Homo sapiens: one gene and its partners. The protein of the gene in region 1 purifies or fractionates together with the protein of each later gene. This does not show direct contact. Each region holds a gene or a part of one and is shown on either strand. Other genes may lie near its edges.

What was found. The genes of interacting proteins can lie anywhere in the genome.
Region 2: the proteins of SLC44A4 (region 1) and SCFD1 purify together in Homo sapiens (affinity purification with mass spectrometry; one large-scale study listed by BioGRID and IntAct). This does not show direct contact.
Region 3: the proteins of SLC44A4 (region 1) and SLC25A12 purify together in Homo sapiens (affinity purification with mass spectrometry; one large-scale study listed by BioGRID and IntAct). This does not show direct contact.
Region 4: the proteins of SLC44A4 (region 1) and GRAMD1A purify together in Homo sapiens (affinity purification with mass spectrometry; one large-scale study listed by BioGRID and IntAct). This does not show direct contact.

Annotation. Positions count from the first base shown.
Region 1 is NC_000006.12:31,871,424-31,876,818, reverse strand, and holds part of SLC44A4 (choline transporter-like protein 4), read left to right. Parts: intron 1-689; coding exon 690-763; intron 764-888; coding exon 889-967; intron 968-1,790; coding exon 1,791-1,890; intron 1,891-1,972; coding exon 1,973-2,098; intron 2,099-2,298; coding exon 2,299-2,359; intron 2,360-5,257; coding exon 5,258-5,345; intron 5,346-5,395. UniProt on the Homo sapiens protein: Choline transporter that plays a role in the choline-acetylcholine system and is required to the efferent innervation of hair cells in the olivocochlear bundle for the maintenance of physiological function of outer hair cells and the protection of hair cells from acoustic injury.
Region 2 is NC_000014.9:30,635,819-30,639,318, forward strand, and holds part of SCFD1 (sec1 family domain-containing protein 1), read left to right. Parts: intron 1-2,306; coding exon 2,307-2,429; intron 2,430-3,500. UniProt on the Homo sapiens protein: Plays a role in SNARE-pin assembly and Golgi-to-ER retrograde transport via its interaction with COG4. Involved in vesicular transport between the endoplasmic reticulum and the Golgi.
Region 3 is NC_000002.12:171,887,745-171,891,244, forward strand, and holds part of SLC25A12 (electrogenic aspartate/glutamate antiporter SLC25A12, mitochondrial), read right to left. Parts: intron 1-3,500. UniProt on the Homo sapiens protein: Mitochondrial electrogenic aspartate/glutamate antiporter that favors efflux of aspartate and entry of glutamate and proton within the mitochondria as part of the malate-aspartate shuttle.
Region 4 is NC_000019.10:35,003,323-35,006,822, forward strand, and holds part of GRAMD1A (protein Aster-A), read left to right. Parts: intron 1-2,009; exon of another isoform or gene 2,010-2,228; intron 2,229-2,362; exon of another isoform or gene 2,363-2,586; coding exon of another isoform or gene 2,587-2,609; intron 2,610-3,500. UniProt on the Homo sapiens protein: Cholesterol transporter that mediates non-vesicular transport of cholesterol from the plasma membrane (PM) to the endoplasmic reticulum (ER).

The DNA of each region.
Region 1 (5,395 bases):
GCCGGCTTCACAAGCGAGAGAACTCACCCAGCTGAGCCCTTGCGAGTTGTGTGCTTTTCTGTCTTTTACTTCAGAAGAAAGTTTACCCACCCAGAAAAAGGTTTTCTTTCTTTTTGTGTTTTGGAGATGGGGGTTCACTGCAGGCTCGAACTCCTGTGCTCAAGTGATCCTCCTGCCCTAGCCTTCCGAGTAGCTGGGACTACAGGCATGCACCATCACACCAGGCTAATTTCTTTGAGATGGGATCTCACTATGTTGCCCAGGCTGGTCTCAAACTCCTGGCCTCAAGGGATTGCCCTGCCTCAGCCTCCCAAGTAGCTAGTATTACAGTCGTGAGCCACTGTGCCTGGCTAGGTTTTCTAAATAAAATATTTAAAAAAAATTAGCCGGGCAGTAGTGGCACGCGCCTGTAATCCCAGCTACTCGGGAGGCTAAGGCAGGAGAATTGCTTGAACCCAGGAGGCAGAGGCTGCAGTGAGCCAAGATTGCACCACTGCACTCCAGTCTGTGTGACAGAGTGAGACCCTGTCTCAAAATAAAAAAGTAAAAGCAATAAAAAAATAAAAATAAAGCCTACTGATGCCCATGCTGCAGCATCACCCAACTCTCTAACCCTTAACCCCTCCAGACCATAAGCCCTACCTCCCCAAGTCTCCTTAGCTCAGCCTCCCGTTTCGTTTCTCTCTCAGAAGCTGCACAGATGTCATCTGCTGCGTCCTCTTCCTGCTCTTCATTCTAGGTTACATCGTGGTGGGGATTGTGGGTGAGTTTCCAGCTGCTCAGAGCCAGGGCAGTGGGTGAGGGACAGGAACCCAGGGAGGGACCATTCCCATAACTGCCCCACTAAGTCCCTGCCCTCCAATGACTCATCTGTGCCTCTGTCTGCAGCCTGGTTGTATGGAGACCCCCGGCAAGTCCTCTACCCCAGGAACTCTACTGGGGCCTACTGTGGCATGGGGGAGAACAAGTGAGTACAAAGGCGAGAAGAGGAGTGCAGGAGCGAGGCGAGGTAGGGTGGGCAGGAGACACCCCCCCAACTCAGGCTCCAGACCTGTCCGTGCTCTTCCACAGCCTTTCCCTGCTGTCCCCACCCCACCTCAGCCTCCCTGAATCTGACAACTCCAGGCCACGTTAAGAACCATTGCTGGACAGTTAGCTTCTTGAGTCCCCCCAGAAATGGGAGGCAGTGGAGAGTCGTGTTAAGTGTATGAGTTTTACAGTTCAGAGATTGGTGTTTGGATCCCCAACTGGACCAAGTTTTGGTTGTGTGGCCTTGGACAAGTTACTCAAGCTCTCTGAGCTTTGATTTCCTTATTTGAAATTCAAGGGGAATTCCAGAAGCAATGCCAACAGTCCTCACATACAGATGTCCAATAAATAATAAAACCTCAAATATTTATATAGCATTTACTATGTTCCAGGCAGGCAGTAAACTTTACACACACAAGCGCATTGAAATCTCATGAGGTAGGCACTACTGTTTTATATGGAGTAGAACTAAGACCGAGAACAGGTGACTTGCTCAAGATCATAAAGATGATATGAAGTTGTGGAGCTCCAAGTTCATGCTCTGAGCTATTTGTCAGCTGCTGCAATGGTGACTTACTCTGAGAGATCTTCTAGGCATCTCCCTACCTCCCCAGCTGAGCTAGGGCCAGGAGCTGGGAGGTGACTGGTATGGGCCACGCTGGGCTGGGCCCACTGTATTCTTGAGAAGCCACCCTAGTGGTCCCTCCCCTCCCCCAACACCTGACCAGGCCCTGATGCACATGGTCCCTCCCCTCCCACAGAGATAAGCCGTATCTCCTGTACTTCAACATCTTCAGCTGCATCCTGTCCAGCAACATCATCTCAGTTGCTGAGAACGGCCTACAGTGCCCCACACCCCAGGTCAGAGCCTGGGACCTGCCTCTACCCCAGATCTCACCCAGGGTCTCAGGTTCCAGCCCCTTAGTGTTCTCTCTGCACCCAGGTGTGTGTGTCCTCCTGCCCGGAGGACCCATGGACTGTGGGAAAAAACGAGTTCTCACAGACTGTTGGGGAAGTCTTCTATACAAAAAACAGGAACTTTTGTCTGCCAGGGGTACCCTGGAATATGGTGAATATTGCCCCTAACCTCATCACTGTCGCCCAGAAGGGCCAGGGTGGGCACGAGAGGGAGGGGGAGTTGGGTAGATCATCACCAGGTTGGCTCTCCTGGGGAGTGTGGGACAGGCTGAGCCCCATGGTGGTGGTGAGGGGACCTGCTTCTTCATCCTGCTCTGTGTCTGTGTGTCTGTCCTTTCACTCCTGCCACAGACGGTGATCACAAGCCTGCAACAGGAACTCTGCCCCAGTTTCCTCCTCCCCTCTGCTCCAGGTGAGAAGCACAGATTCCTTCCTCAGACGTCATCTAGTCCAGTGTTTTCATTGCTTGAATGAAGAAATCAGGCCCAGAGAGAGTGAAGTCACATAGCTTGTTGGTGGCAAAATTGGAATTAGCATCAGGTCTTCATTTTGCTCTTTGTTATGTGGCCTTGCAGTCAGACCATCAGTGTTTTGGGGACCTACTATGTGCCAGGTGCTGGGGACAGAGGCAGGGATAACAACTGCTCCCTGCTTCAGCTACATTCTAGGTGAAGAGATTAGAGTTGTTCACAAAGAGACTGTATGAAAATCTCATGAAAACATACATGGGTGAATCTACACACACATTTTTTTTTTTTTGACGGAGTCTTCCTCTGTTGCCCAGGCTGGAGTGCAGTGGCGTGATCTCGGCTCACTGCAACCCCCGCCTCCCGGGTTCAAGCGCTTCTCTGCTTCAGCCTCCCGAGTAGCTGGAATTACAGCACATGGTGCCCGCCACCACGCCCGGCTAATTTTTATTTTTATTTTATTTATTAAATTTATTTATTAAATTTGTATTTTTAGTAGAGACGGGGTTTCACTATCTTGGCCAAGCTGGTCTTGAACTCCTAACTTCGTGATCCACCCACCTTGGCCTCCCAAAGTGCTGGGATTACAGACATGAGCCACCACGCCCAGCCTGCACACATATCATTTTTATATATGCACAGGGAAAAGGCTAGAAGGATATTTGTTCAAATGTTATAAGTGAACGTGGCTGGGTGGTAGGATCACAGTTGAACTTTTTTTCTTTTACAGTGTGCTCTTCCTTCCAGTAGCAAATGTCTTTTTTTTTTTTTAAGAGATGAAGTCTTGCTATGTTGCCCAGGCTGGTCTTGAACTCCTCGATTCAAGCAATCTTCCCACCTCAGCCTCTCAAAGTGCTGGGATTACAGACATGAGCCCCGACACCCAGTTGCAAATGTCATTTTTAATATAAAACAATTTTTAGGCCAGGCATGGTGGCTCATGCTTGTAATCCTAGCACTTTGGGAGGCTGAGGCAGGCAGATCACCTGAGATCAGGAGTTCGAGACCAGCCTGGCCAACATGGCGAAACCCTATCTCTACTAAAAATACAAAACTTAGCTGGGCGTGGTGGCATGCACCTCTTATCCCAGCTACTCAGGAGGCTGAGGCAGGAGAATTGCTTGAACCCGGGTGGCAGAGGTTGCAGTGAGCTTTGCAGTGAGCCAAGATCGTGCCACTGTACTCTAGCCTTGCTGACAGAGCGAGACTCCGTCTCAAACAAAAATTTTAGGCCGGGAGCAGTGGCTCACACCTGTAATCCCAGCACTTTGGGAGGCCGAGGCGGGCGGATCACAAGGTCAGGAGTTCGAGACTAGTCTGGCCAACATGGTGAAACCCCGTCTCTACTAAAAATACAAAAATTAGCCAGGTGTGGTGGTGGGCACCTGAAATCCCAGCTACTCGGGAGGCTGAAGTAGGAGAATTGCTTGAGCCCAGAGGCGGAGTTTACGGTGAGCCGAGATGGTGCCACTGCACTCCAGCCTGGGCAACAGTGAGACTCCATCTCAAAAAAAAAAAATTAGACAATTTATAGCATAAGATGAGATATCCAGTTATCAATTTAAGTACAGTAAGGAGTATCTCAAGTGAATACTTCAAAGTCAAGTAGATCTGAATATAAATTCTAGCACTTTCCAGCCCTATGGTCTTGACCCAACTATGCAACCTCTCTGAACCTTGTTTCCTCATCTTTAGAATGTAAATGACAGTGAGGTGCAGTGGCTCATGCCTGTAGTCCCAACTGCTCAGGAGGCTAAGGCGGGAGGATCACTTGAGTCCTGGAGTTGGAGGTTACAGTGAGCTATGATTGTGCCACTGCACTCCAGCCTGGGCAATAGAGTGAGAAACCCTGCCTCTAAAAAATAAATAAGCTAGGTGAGGTGACTCACACCTGTAATCCCAACACTTTGGGGGGCTGAGGTGGGAGGATTGCTTGAGCCCAGGAGTTTGAGGCCAGCCTGGGCAACACAGCAAAACCCCATCTGTACAAAAAATTTAAAAATTAGCCAAGTGTGGTGGTGCACATCTATAGTCCCAGTTGCTTGGGAGGCTAAGTGGGGAGGATCGCTTGAGCCCAGAAGTTCAATGTTGCAGTAAGCTATGATCATGCAGCTGCACTCTAGCCTGGGTGACAGAGCAAGACCTTGACTCAAAAATAAGAAAATAAATAAATAAATAGATAAATAAATGACAAAGCAAGGCTGCCTGGCAAAGTTGTTGCAAGGATGGCAGTAAGTGGCTCTGTAGGCACATAACAGTTGCCAAAGGAGGTGGGGATAAGGTCAGAAGGCTTCCTGGAGGAGGTGAGATGGAGCTGGATTTGAACAGGGAGTCATGGATGGGATTTCTGGTGGAAAGAGAGCCCTGAGAGAGAGGCACAGTAAGAGCAAAGGTACAGAGTAGAAGGGAACATGGGCTGGATTTGCACAGGAGAGCCTGGAAGCCTGGCCAGGGAGTGTGGATGCTGTCTCTGGGGCAGAGCCTCTGGAGATGTCTGAGTCACAAAGGGACCCAGAACCCTGGAGTGATGAAGTCCAGGCAGTGCCACGGTCTCCCTGGCACTCCACTCGGGTGGAGGGTGGATGGAAGGGTGACAGGGTGTTCTAAGAGTTGAGGCCAGCGGAGAGGAGGGTCCAAACCAAGGCACGACAGGGAGGGGAGGCAGGGGATAGACTGGGCTCCACAGGGCAGAAGCCCATTTGTGAAATCAAAAGCAGCCCACTGAGGGATGCAAGGCCCATCACCCTTCCCTCCCCTAAGGGCACTGTGGACTGGGAGGGGGCCAGAGACCCTCCAGGCAGAGCTCCTGGCCCCCAACCCAGCAGCCCGGCTCTCCCTTCCAGCTCTGGGGCGCTGCTTTCCATGGACCAACGTTACTCCACCGGCGCTCCCAGGGATCACCAATGACACCACCATACAGCAGGGGATCAGGTAGGCACCTCCCTCCCCCACATCCTGGCCACACCCCTTCCACCCACAGC
Region 2 (3,500 bases), on another chromosome or scaffold:
TTTAGTAATAGACTGTTTTGCGAAGTGTGGTTGCACCATTTTATATTCCCACCAGTAGTGTGTGAGGGTTCTGATTTCTCCAGATCCTTGCTGAACACTTACTATCCGATATTTTTATTGTAGCCATCCTAATAGGTTTGAAGTGGCATCTCATTATAGTTTTGATTTGCATTTCTGTAATTAATGATATTAAGCATCTTTTAACATGCTTATTGGCCATTTGTATGTCTTTCTAGAAATATCTATTCAGATCATTCACCCAGTTTTTAATTGGGTTGTCTTTTTATTGTTGAGTTGATAGAATTCTTTTTCTGTTTTGGATACTAGACACTCACAAGTTTATGATTTGTAAATATTTTCTCCCAGTCTATGGGTTATCTTTTCATTCTCTGGATAATGTCCTTTGAAGCACAAACATTTTTGATTTTGATGAAGCCCAGTTTATCGGTTTTTTTTTTTCTTGAGTTGCTTATGCTTTTGGTGTCATATTTAGGAAACCATTCCAGATTCTTGTGTTTTCTTCTAAGAATTTTATAGTTTTGGCTCTTACCTGTAGGTCTTGATTCCCCTTTGCATTATTTTTATATATGGTGGGATGTAGGTGTCCAACTTTATTCTTTTGCATGTGGCTATCCAGTTGTCCCAGCGTAATTTATTAAAGAGACTATTCTTTCCCTAGTGAATGGTCTTGGCAGCCTTGTCAAAAATCAGCTGACCACAGATATCTTGTTTGATTTCTGAACTCTCAGTTCTATTGCATTGATATCTATGTCTTTCCTTATGCCTGTACCACACAGTGTTGATATCTCTTGCTTGATAGCAAGTTTTGAAATTGAGAAATTGTGTCCTCCAACTTTGTACTTTTTTTCAGACTGTTTTGGCTTTTCTTGAATTTCCAAATTACGATTAGCTTGTCATAAGTTTTGTGCTTCTTTTGTTAAATTTATTCTTTCATGTGTTTAATGCTTATTATGAATGGAATTCTTAATTCCATTTTTAGGATTCTTCATTGCAATTGTATAAAAATTCAATTGATTTTTATGTATTTATCTTGTATCCTGCAACCTTGCTGAACTTATATGTCCTTTTGAAATGTATGCATCATTCTTTGACCACTTCCTTACTTTCTGGCACAATAAGATGTTCCAATATAGCCTAGGATTTTACTTTCTCTGTCTCAGCCCAGGATTCAGACATTTTTCTGAGGAGCTCTGGTTGCTTTCTGTAAAGAATGGTATTTAGGAATCAGGATCTAGGCATTAGGTATATTCATTGTGACTAGAGTGTCACTGTTCTTAGGTCCTCTCAATGGAAAAAGTTAGGAAATTATGTATTTATACATACACTTTTATATCTGTATTTATTTCTACAATTCTCCCTCTCTTCCCCTCACCTATCCAGATAAACAGATAACCTCCAAAACTGTTTCAGCTCAGCAACACAGGATTCACTCTAGCGTTTCCCTTTTCTCTTTACAAATTTGTAACTCCTTTCTCAGAGTGAAAAACATGGTTCCCAGTATCGTGAACATATTACTTATTTCTCAATCCTCATACATAAATAATTTCTTGACCTTGATTGAACCACTACCCTGATCACCTTCCTCACAAAGGCTCCAACCCCTCAATGTTTCACATTTTAACATCGCTAAAATCAGGTGCATCTTAAAATTGATCATGCCACAAAATTTTATTGGCATCATTAATTCTTAGTGTTACATAAAATGATGGTTCTTGTTACAGTCAATGACATCTTAGATTTAAGGAAGTATGGTTATTTCGATATCTATTTGCTAAAAGTATAAGAAGATAAGTAAATTTGACTTAAGAATTTGCATAACTTAAATTGCACTACTTTTGAGCAGTTGAAAAGAAATACCTCTAGAATTGGTAATTGGATTTATAACTTGTCTGTGTGCAATGAAGGATTTGTTGTGTCATCACATGTCCAGAACAGTTGAAGATCGTGTCTGCCAAATATAACAAGCATTTTACTATATTAGTGGACCATATCTGGATATTTTAAGAAGAATGCAGATAGGCTGTATGAAAGCAGTTTGTACTGTATTGTAATTAATGAGATTTTGTTGATAATATAATTTTATTACTTTATTAAGAAACATTTTAGTTACATCTGATAACCAGATAACCAGTACTACTTCAAAGGTTTTTTCTCTTGGGATACTTTTTTTGATTGTCATTTAAATATCCTGTCTTTTAAATATAACTTTGCCTTATAGTAGTTGAAACATATGTATTCATGGTCTTCTTTATCCTATAAGAATAAAGTTTTCATTGTATTGATAGGATCTTCGAAATCAACTATATGAATCATATTATTTAAATTTTATTTCTGCTATTTCAAGAAGTAAACTGGAAGATATTGCAAATGCAGCGTTAGCAGCTAGTGCAGTAACACAAGTAGCCAAGGTAAGAGAGTTTGGTGGGTTGATGACATTTTGTCAATGTAAAATTTAACACTGTTCTGAAACCCGTAGTTGGCATAGATATCTATTTGACAGATGACCAGAACAACAGAATTGTTTAGGCTCAATACTTTTATAAAGAGTTCTGATAATATAAATTATATTCAAGTTGAACTAGGCAAAATAAGCCAAACTAAAGGAACCTATTATTTAATGAATTTGAAAGACAGAAATAAAAAGCAGAATGAGTTTTGCTTTAGTCTGTGATTTGTATAATATTTTTAGGTCAACTCAGAAATCATTTGACAGTTGTATTGTCATAAACTGTATTGAAAGTATGTTGACATTGTTTTATCTGTAATCATTATAATCATCATACTATTTCCAGATATTTTTTTTACTTAGGAAAGAGGATCCAAAGTGCCCGTGTTGCATATTGAGATCCAAAGTGCCTCTGTTGCATATTAAGAGAAAAAGAACCCATGACAGGCCTGCAATTCTACATCATAGTGACTTTTTAGTCAGGTTCAGCTTCAGTTATAAATCAATTTGTAAAATATATTTCAGGTTATAATCCTGTAATGCTCTGTGTTTCTTGAATTTGGACAAGATATGCATTAAAGTTCCAGACAACTATCTAGGACAAATAAAAGACTAAACAACCATGCATATACTTTCTATTCTTTTTCTACTGATAGATTTTTCATTGTTAGAGTTAAATAGACCACTAATATTTCTGATTAGTTTTTGAGGCTTATGCCTTTAATCTTTGTGCTCAAAATTTATTAACTTCACATAAAATAATGGGAACAACTTTTGTTTTCCTTCTTGTTTTGTTTTGAGACAGTGTCTCGCTCGCCCAGGCTGGAATGCAGTGGTGCAATCACTGCTTGCTGCAATCTTCAGCTCCTGGGCTCGTACCACCCCACCCAGCTAATTTTTTTAATATGTTGCCCAGGTCTCAAACTTCTGGCCTCAAACAGTCCTCCCACCTCAGCCTCCCAAAGCTCTGGGATTACAGGTGCAAGCCACCTCACTCAGCCTTAATTTGGTTAACTAAATTCAGTGTATTTCA
Region 3 (3,500 bases), on another chromosome or scaffold:
GTAAAATCTTAGCTTAAACCAGTTGTAAAATTACAGCACAGCCTAACACATAAGAATTCATTTGTTGTACTCCAATTTCATGAACTTGGCAGAGTGGAGGTGGGCAGAAAAAGGCAGAATCTTAGTGCATACTGTTGTTGTTGATGTTTTTTAACTAATAGAAACATAGCTCATCAAAACTTGAGAAGCAATGAACACCACAGGAAAAATGAACCTATTTCCCTATATTCAAAATAATAATGCTTTACTCTTATAAAGCCCTTCTTATGAACTCCCACACCAATTCTCATACAATTTCACTAAACATAGATACATAAATAAGTCAGTTGCCACTTTCTTTTCTTTTTTCCTTTTTTTTTTTTTTTTTGGAGACAAAGTCTTGTTCTGTCACCCATGCTGGAGTGCAGTGGTATAATGATAACTCATTGTAACCTCGAACTTCTGGGCTCAAGTGATCCTCCCATCTCAGCTTCCAGAGCAGCTAGGACCACAGGCATGTACCACCGCACCCAGCTAAATCTATATACATATATTTGTAGCCATGGAATCTCGCTTTGTTGCCCAGGCTGGTCTTGAACTCCTGGCCTCAAGTGATCCTCCCACCTCAGCCTCGCAAAGCACTGGGATTACAGGTATGAGCTGCCGCACCCAGCTGATATACCAGTACTTTCAAATAAAAATATATATATATTTTTTTAATTATTATTTTTTTTGAGACAGTGAGTCTCGCTCTGTCGCCCAGGCTGAAGTGCAGTGGCACAATCTCGGCTCACTGCAACCCCCGCTTCCCGGGTTCAAGCGATTCTCCTGCCTCAGCTTCCCTAGTAGCTGAGATTACAGGCGTGCGCTACCACATCTGGCTAATTTTTTATATTTTTTATAGAGACAGGGTTTCACCATGTTGCCCAGGCTGGTCTCAAACTCCTGACCTCAAGTGATCCACCCGCCTCAGCCTCCCAAATTGCTGGGATTACAGGTGTGAGCCACCACACCCGGCCATTTTATTGTTTTACAAATGACTTTTGACCCATGGCTCAAAAGTTTAACAAAATATTCTTATTTGAAAGTAGGAATTTTTATTGACTATTTGTGAACTTAAACAGTTAATGCCACAGATCTACATTTTACAAAGAGTTTTCAACTGTACTCTAAAATTTAAAATTATATCTCTTTATAGTCTTTAAGTAGCTCAGATAATTCTAAACTCAAGTGACCCCAAAATCCTCCCCAAACTAAATCATACTAATAACAGAATAATCTACATTTTAACCTTTAATTATATCCTTCTTGTGAAACTCCTACTTTAAACTTTCATGGGACCATTCTCCCTATTTCCCCTCCTCCTCCTTCCTACTTCAATTGGAGATATCACTTATAAATCAGCCCCTGATCCTCTGCCTTGCTTTATATACAAGGAATTCATCTACCACCTGCACAAATTTGTATCTGTCCAAATCCAACTTTAACTTAGTGAGATACATTTGTTTAGCAACCAAACTAACCCCATCCCCCCAAAAAATATTATCTAAATAGATGCCTTATCAATTAACACCTATCCTAAAACTGACAGGTTCACTTCTACTTCTTCCCTTACTTCCATATTTAATACCAAATTCGATAGATTCTTCCCTTACATCGCTGGTATTGTCCTTGCTTTTCATTTCCCCAGCCATCAACCACTCTAGGTCATTAATTCTCAAAAGTATTACTTCAGTAGCCTCTCAGCTTATCACCTAAGCTACTTCCAATCTCTTCATACTTTATCCAACATACACAAAAAGCTGCCAGAATTCACCACTTCAATTTGCCTACTCAGAAACCCACAGTGGCTCCCTACTGTTTCAAATCCAAATTCCTTGGCTAACTATTCTAGACAGTTACAGTGTAAAGAAACTTTTTAAATTTCATCACCTAAGTAACCAGATTTTTTTTTAACTTCTTAACACTCTGCCATTATCCCCTGATATACCTCTGTCTTTCAAAAGTCACCCCATTTCAATATCCTACCAGTAGTATTATGTAAGGGTTAAGGGTATGGGCTCTGGAATTTGATTTGAATCTGGCTCTACCACATAGTCTGACATTAATTTAACCTCATCTATGTAACAAGGATATTAAACCTGCTTCATAAAGTTGTTATGAAAACTAACATTAATATCCTTAAAGCACTAGGCCAATCTCAAGCACACTCTAAATGATCAATAAATGTTAGCCATTGTCAATATTATTACACAGCCACTATGATGTAAGAAGCCAATCTGATTGCTCTACCACAGGCTATGCATTTGCCTTCACTATTCTTGATTCCCTCAACCACAAACCATGAGAGATGGCATGGGCCTGAGAGAGCAGCTAGTCCAATCACATGTCCATCAGCATTTAGGTCTTGGCTCTGTTGTCTCTCTTGATATTCGACTTGGTGTCTGCTACTGAACAGTATTGTATTGAATAAAAGTGCATGGTACACAGCAAATAATCCTTTGTAAATATTTGTTGGGTAAATATGTTAAGTGCTAAAGAAATACACGGTTAGCATGTATTTTTGTCTTCTATTATAGCTAAAATATTAATCAACTATATGCATCTATAAAACTGTTTCATAAAACTGTTTCTAAACAGTACTGCAAAGCTTCAAATAACTATAGTTTGAAGTATTCAAGCCAGGAATAAAAATCTTTTACTTGGTAACTATCCTCAAATTGATCCAACTAGCAATACTGTATCGTGTGTGTCTGTGTGTGTGTGTGTGTGTGTGTGTAACAAGGTCTTGCTCTGTTGCCAGGCTGGAGTGCAGTGGTATGATCTTGGCTTACTGCAACCTCTGCCTCCTAGGATCAAGCAATCCTCCTACCTCAGCCACCTGAGTAGCTGGGACCACAGATGGATGCCACCAGGTGTGGCTAATTTTTAAAATTTTTTGCAGAGACGAGGTCTCACTATATTGCTCAGGTTGGTCTTGAACTCCTGGGCTCAAGTGATCCTCTAGCCTCAGCCTCCCAAAGTGCTGAGATTACAGGTGTGAGCTACTGCACTCAGCCTATATTGTTATCTTTCTTGCTGCGTTAGGCCTTTCTGAAGGTGAGTATTTACATTCTATCACTCTCTTATCTATCAATAATGCTTGTGTCAATGTTTCATACTTAGTGCTAAATAAGCAGTTATGAATTCCACAAATTTTCAACATAAAAATAAAGGCATCATCAAAATAATGTGTAAAAAGATAATGACGATATGCAAAACAGTAAATGAAAAGCTAAGATTTAAAAGTTGTCAAAGAATCGGCCAGGCATGGTGGCTCACGCCTGTAATCCCAGCACTTTGGGAGGCTGAGGCACACAGATCACGAGGTCAGGAGATCAAGACCATCCTGGCTAACATGGTGAAACCCTGTCTCTACTAAAAATACAAAAAATTAGCCGGGTGTGGTGGCACATGCCTGTAATCCCAGCTACTCGGAGGCAAGAGAATTGCTTGAACCCCGGAGGCAGAAGTTGCAGTGA
Region 4 (3,500 bases), on another chromosome or scaffold:
CTCTGGGTCCACTGGGGCCTAGGAAGTTGGAGGTCAGGTGTCTGCGGAAGCAAAACAACATCCCTTCCGAGTCTCCTCGCCCCTATAACAGTCCCCCAGGCTCCTCCCTTCACTCTGCCTTCAGCTATCCTGGTTGGGCAGCCGCAGGGTCCGCCCTTGAGTACTTCCTCTTTGCCCAGCCCTGGAGCAAAAACTGGGGGCGTGGTCCCTGCCCTGTCTGTGTGCCTTGAGCCTCTCTTCAGGATTCCGGCCCCCAGGCCCTGCCCCTAGATCTGTGGCTGCGGGAAAGTAGGGCAGGTCTGTGTTTCAGGCTAGAGGGCTGAGAAAAGCAGGCAGGGGAGGATGTGGTCCTGCTGCTTAGGAGTCTCTCCCTGCTCACCAGTGCTGTCTGGGTGAAGCCAAACTCCTGACTAGGGTCACCAGGCCTGTGCACCTCCGCTACTCCCTCAGCCCCACTGGCCACCTCACTCACACTCAGACCTGCCAGGCTCAGTCCTGTCCCTGAGCTTGATGTTCTCCACCTGGAGTCTTCTCCCAGCCTTTGCCACATGTGTTCTTTGTCCTCAGGTGAACAAGTGGGCTTTGTTCAGGAAGGCTTTTGCTGACTGTTACTAAAGAAATTGGTTGGGCACAGTGGCTCATGCCTGTAATCCCAGCACTTTGGGAGGCCAAGGTGGGAGGATCACTTGAGGTCAGGAGTTTGAGACCAGCCTGGGCAACATAGCAAGACCCCATCACTACAAAAAAACTTTAAAAATCAGCTAGGCATGGTGGTGTGAGACTGTAGTCCCAGCTATCAGGGAAGCTAAGGCTGGAGGATCGCTTGAGCCCAAGAGTTCGGGCCTGGAGTGACCTGGGAGGCTGAGGATTGAGAATTCCTTGAGCCCAGGAGTTCGGAGCTGCCGTTAACCATGATTTTGCCACTGTACTGCAGCCTGGGTGACAGAGTGTGACCGTGTCTCTAAAAAAAATTTAAAAAGCATCTCTGCCCCCCTAGTTGTCCCATCCCTTATCTCTGTGGTCCTCAAACTTGAATGTGCGTCGGAATCTCTGGCCCCACCCCAGTTCTGATTCAGAAGGTTGGGAGTGGGTCCTGGACTCTGCCTTTTGAACACTTTCCAAGTCCTGCCTGCTGCTCTCTGGGGCTCATACTGAGCAGCATTGCTTTATGGCGTTCACCAGTGTCTGAGGTCGCCATCCCTGCTCACTTGTTTTCTTACTGACGGTCTATGTTTCCCTGTTTCAGCGTCAGGTCCTTGCAGGCAGGGGCTTGTATGGGCTTTGCTCACTTCCTTGTGGCGGGTGCAGGGTATTTAGAGGTGAAAGGCTGGAGTTGAGGGTCAGTCATGGAGGCGCCTAACATCAGGCGTAGTGCTTGTGAGGTCCCTGTCAGGGTCAGCAGAGCGTCATGGGCAGTGGTGCACTGGGCTGGCAGCCGCGCTGTACACTCCATCTTAGTCCGCCAGTCCCTGTGGGAGGGAAAGCAGCGTAGTTAAACCAGGTGCCCTCCAGGTACTGGGCTTTGTGGATCTCACCTCACCTCCATCTCTGTGCAACCCTAGGAGGTGGGCACTAATTCCCATCATACCCAAGAGGAAACTGAGGCACAGGAGGGTTCAGACACTAGCTCAGGGTCACACAGAAAGGACGCGGTGGCACTTGACTGGAAGGTCCTTGGACTGTGGGGCCCACACTCCAGGCTGCTGCCCTGGAGACCTGCAGGGTCCAAGGAGTCGTGCACCTGCTGGAACCCAAGTTCTATGGGGGGCGGGGAAGGAGGGCCGATCACCCAGGCCATCCCCAACAGTATGTGCTCACGGAGCACCTCCTGTACGCCAGGCCCTGCTCTAGGTGATGGGGACACTCAACATCGTGGGTGGGGGTTGGGGGTGGGGAGAGAAGGATAAGAACTAGGGGGAAATACTGAAGGTCCCGGGAGGCAGCAGGGAGACTTGCTTTGCAGAAAGAGAGCAGGGAGGGGGATCGGGAGGCGGGGTAGGGGGTGTTAAATAGGGAGGTAGGGAAGGTGTCCACTGAGCAGAGACCTGAGGGAGGTGGGGGAGCCCTGTGGATGTGGATGTGGATGTCTGGGAGGAAGGGCATTTTGAGCAGAGGCACCGACCAAGGCGGGAGCTGGGAGAGGGAGTGCAGGGCTGATGAGGGCAGAGAGGGACCACCCAGGAGGACCCTGATGGACTCAGATGATCCCAGGCTCCCTCCCACTACAGGTATGGGCAGGGATGGGAACAGGGAGACCAGGGAGGAGGCTGCTGGGATGGCCCAGGGGAAAAGCAGTGGCCTGGGCCACTGGCTGTTTAATTATTTTATTCACGTATTTTATTCCACAAATTTATTTTACAAGTGTTACATGAGTGCCTACCCTGCATCCTGTCCCGCATTGTGCTGGGGACAGAGCAGTGACCCACAGACCCGTGAAGGACTTGGACCTGTCATCAGACAGTGACGGCCCAGAGTAGTCCAGGATGGGAGCTGCCCAGGGGACTGTGGGGTCACGCATGAGCCAAAGTCCTGAAGGACAAATAAGGATTTGCTAGGCAAAGAAGAACTACGATCTGGACAGACAGAATGGCATATGTTAAGGCTTGGAGGTAAGAGAGACAACTTTGAGTTGCCCCAGGTGGTGGAGGGAATCCCACCTGCACCCCAGAATACATCAAGGCCCCTAAATGGGAATCCTGCCTTGAAATAAACCAAGCCCATGGCCAGGTGCAGTGGCTCACAGCTGTAATCTCCTAGCACTTTGGGATGCTGAGGCAGGTGGATTGCCTGAGCTCAGGAGTTCGAGACCAGCAACGTGGTGGAACCCTGTCTCTACTAAAATACAAAAAATTAGCTGGGCATGGTGGTGGGTGCCTGTAATCCCAGCTACTGCGGAGGCTGAGGCAGGAGAATCACTTGAACCTGGGAGGCGCAGGTTGCACTGAGCTGAGATAGTGCCACTGCACTCCAGCCTGGGTGACAGCGCGACTCTTTGTCTCCAAAAAATAAAGAAAAAAGAAAGAAACCAGGCCCGTATCCTATGGCAAGTGGTTTGCCGCTTTGAGCTAGTTTCCTCCTCTGTAAAGCAGGGATGGTGAATCATATCAAAGGCACCGGCTTGAGAAATAATACGGTTAATCATACGGAGAGCTTGACATATTTCCTGATAAGGAGTCAACAAAGAATGTCCTTTTAAAGTTCCCAACGCCATCCCCACAGTCCTTATTACAGTTCGTGTTTGCACAGTGAAGTTGGGAGTGTCCTGTTTGTTCAGTGTCTGCCTCCCCACCAGAAGGCTCATTCCCCAAGGGCAGGGGCCATGTCCTGCGGGCTCTACTGATGCCAGCTCCAGCCAGCGTGCAGATTATTCATTTAGCCTCTGGTGGTTATTGAGCATTCACTATGTGCCTAGAGTTTTGGGCTCTAGGGACCCGGTGGTAACCAAGACCTGAAGGTCACAGTCTGGGTAGACAGTAAACAAACAGTAAACAAGCAGGACA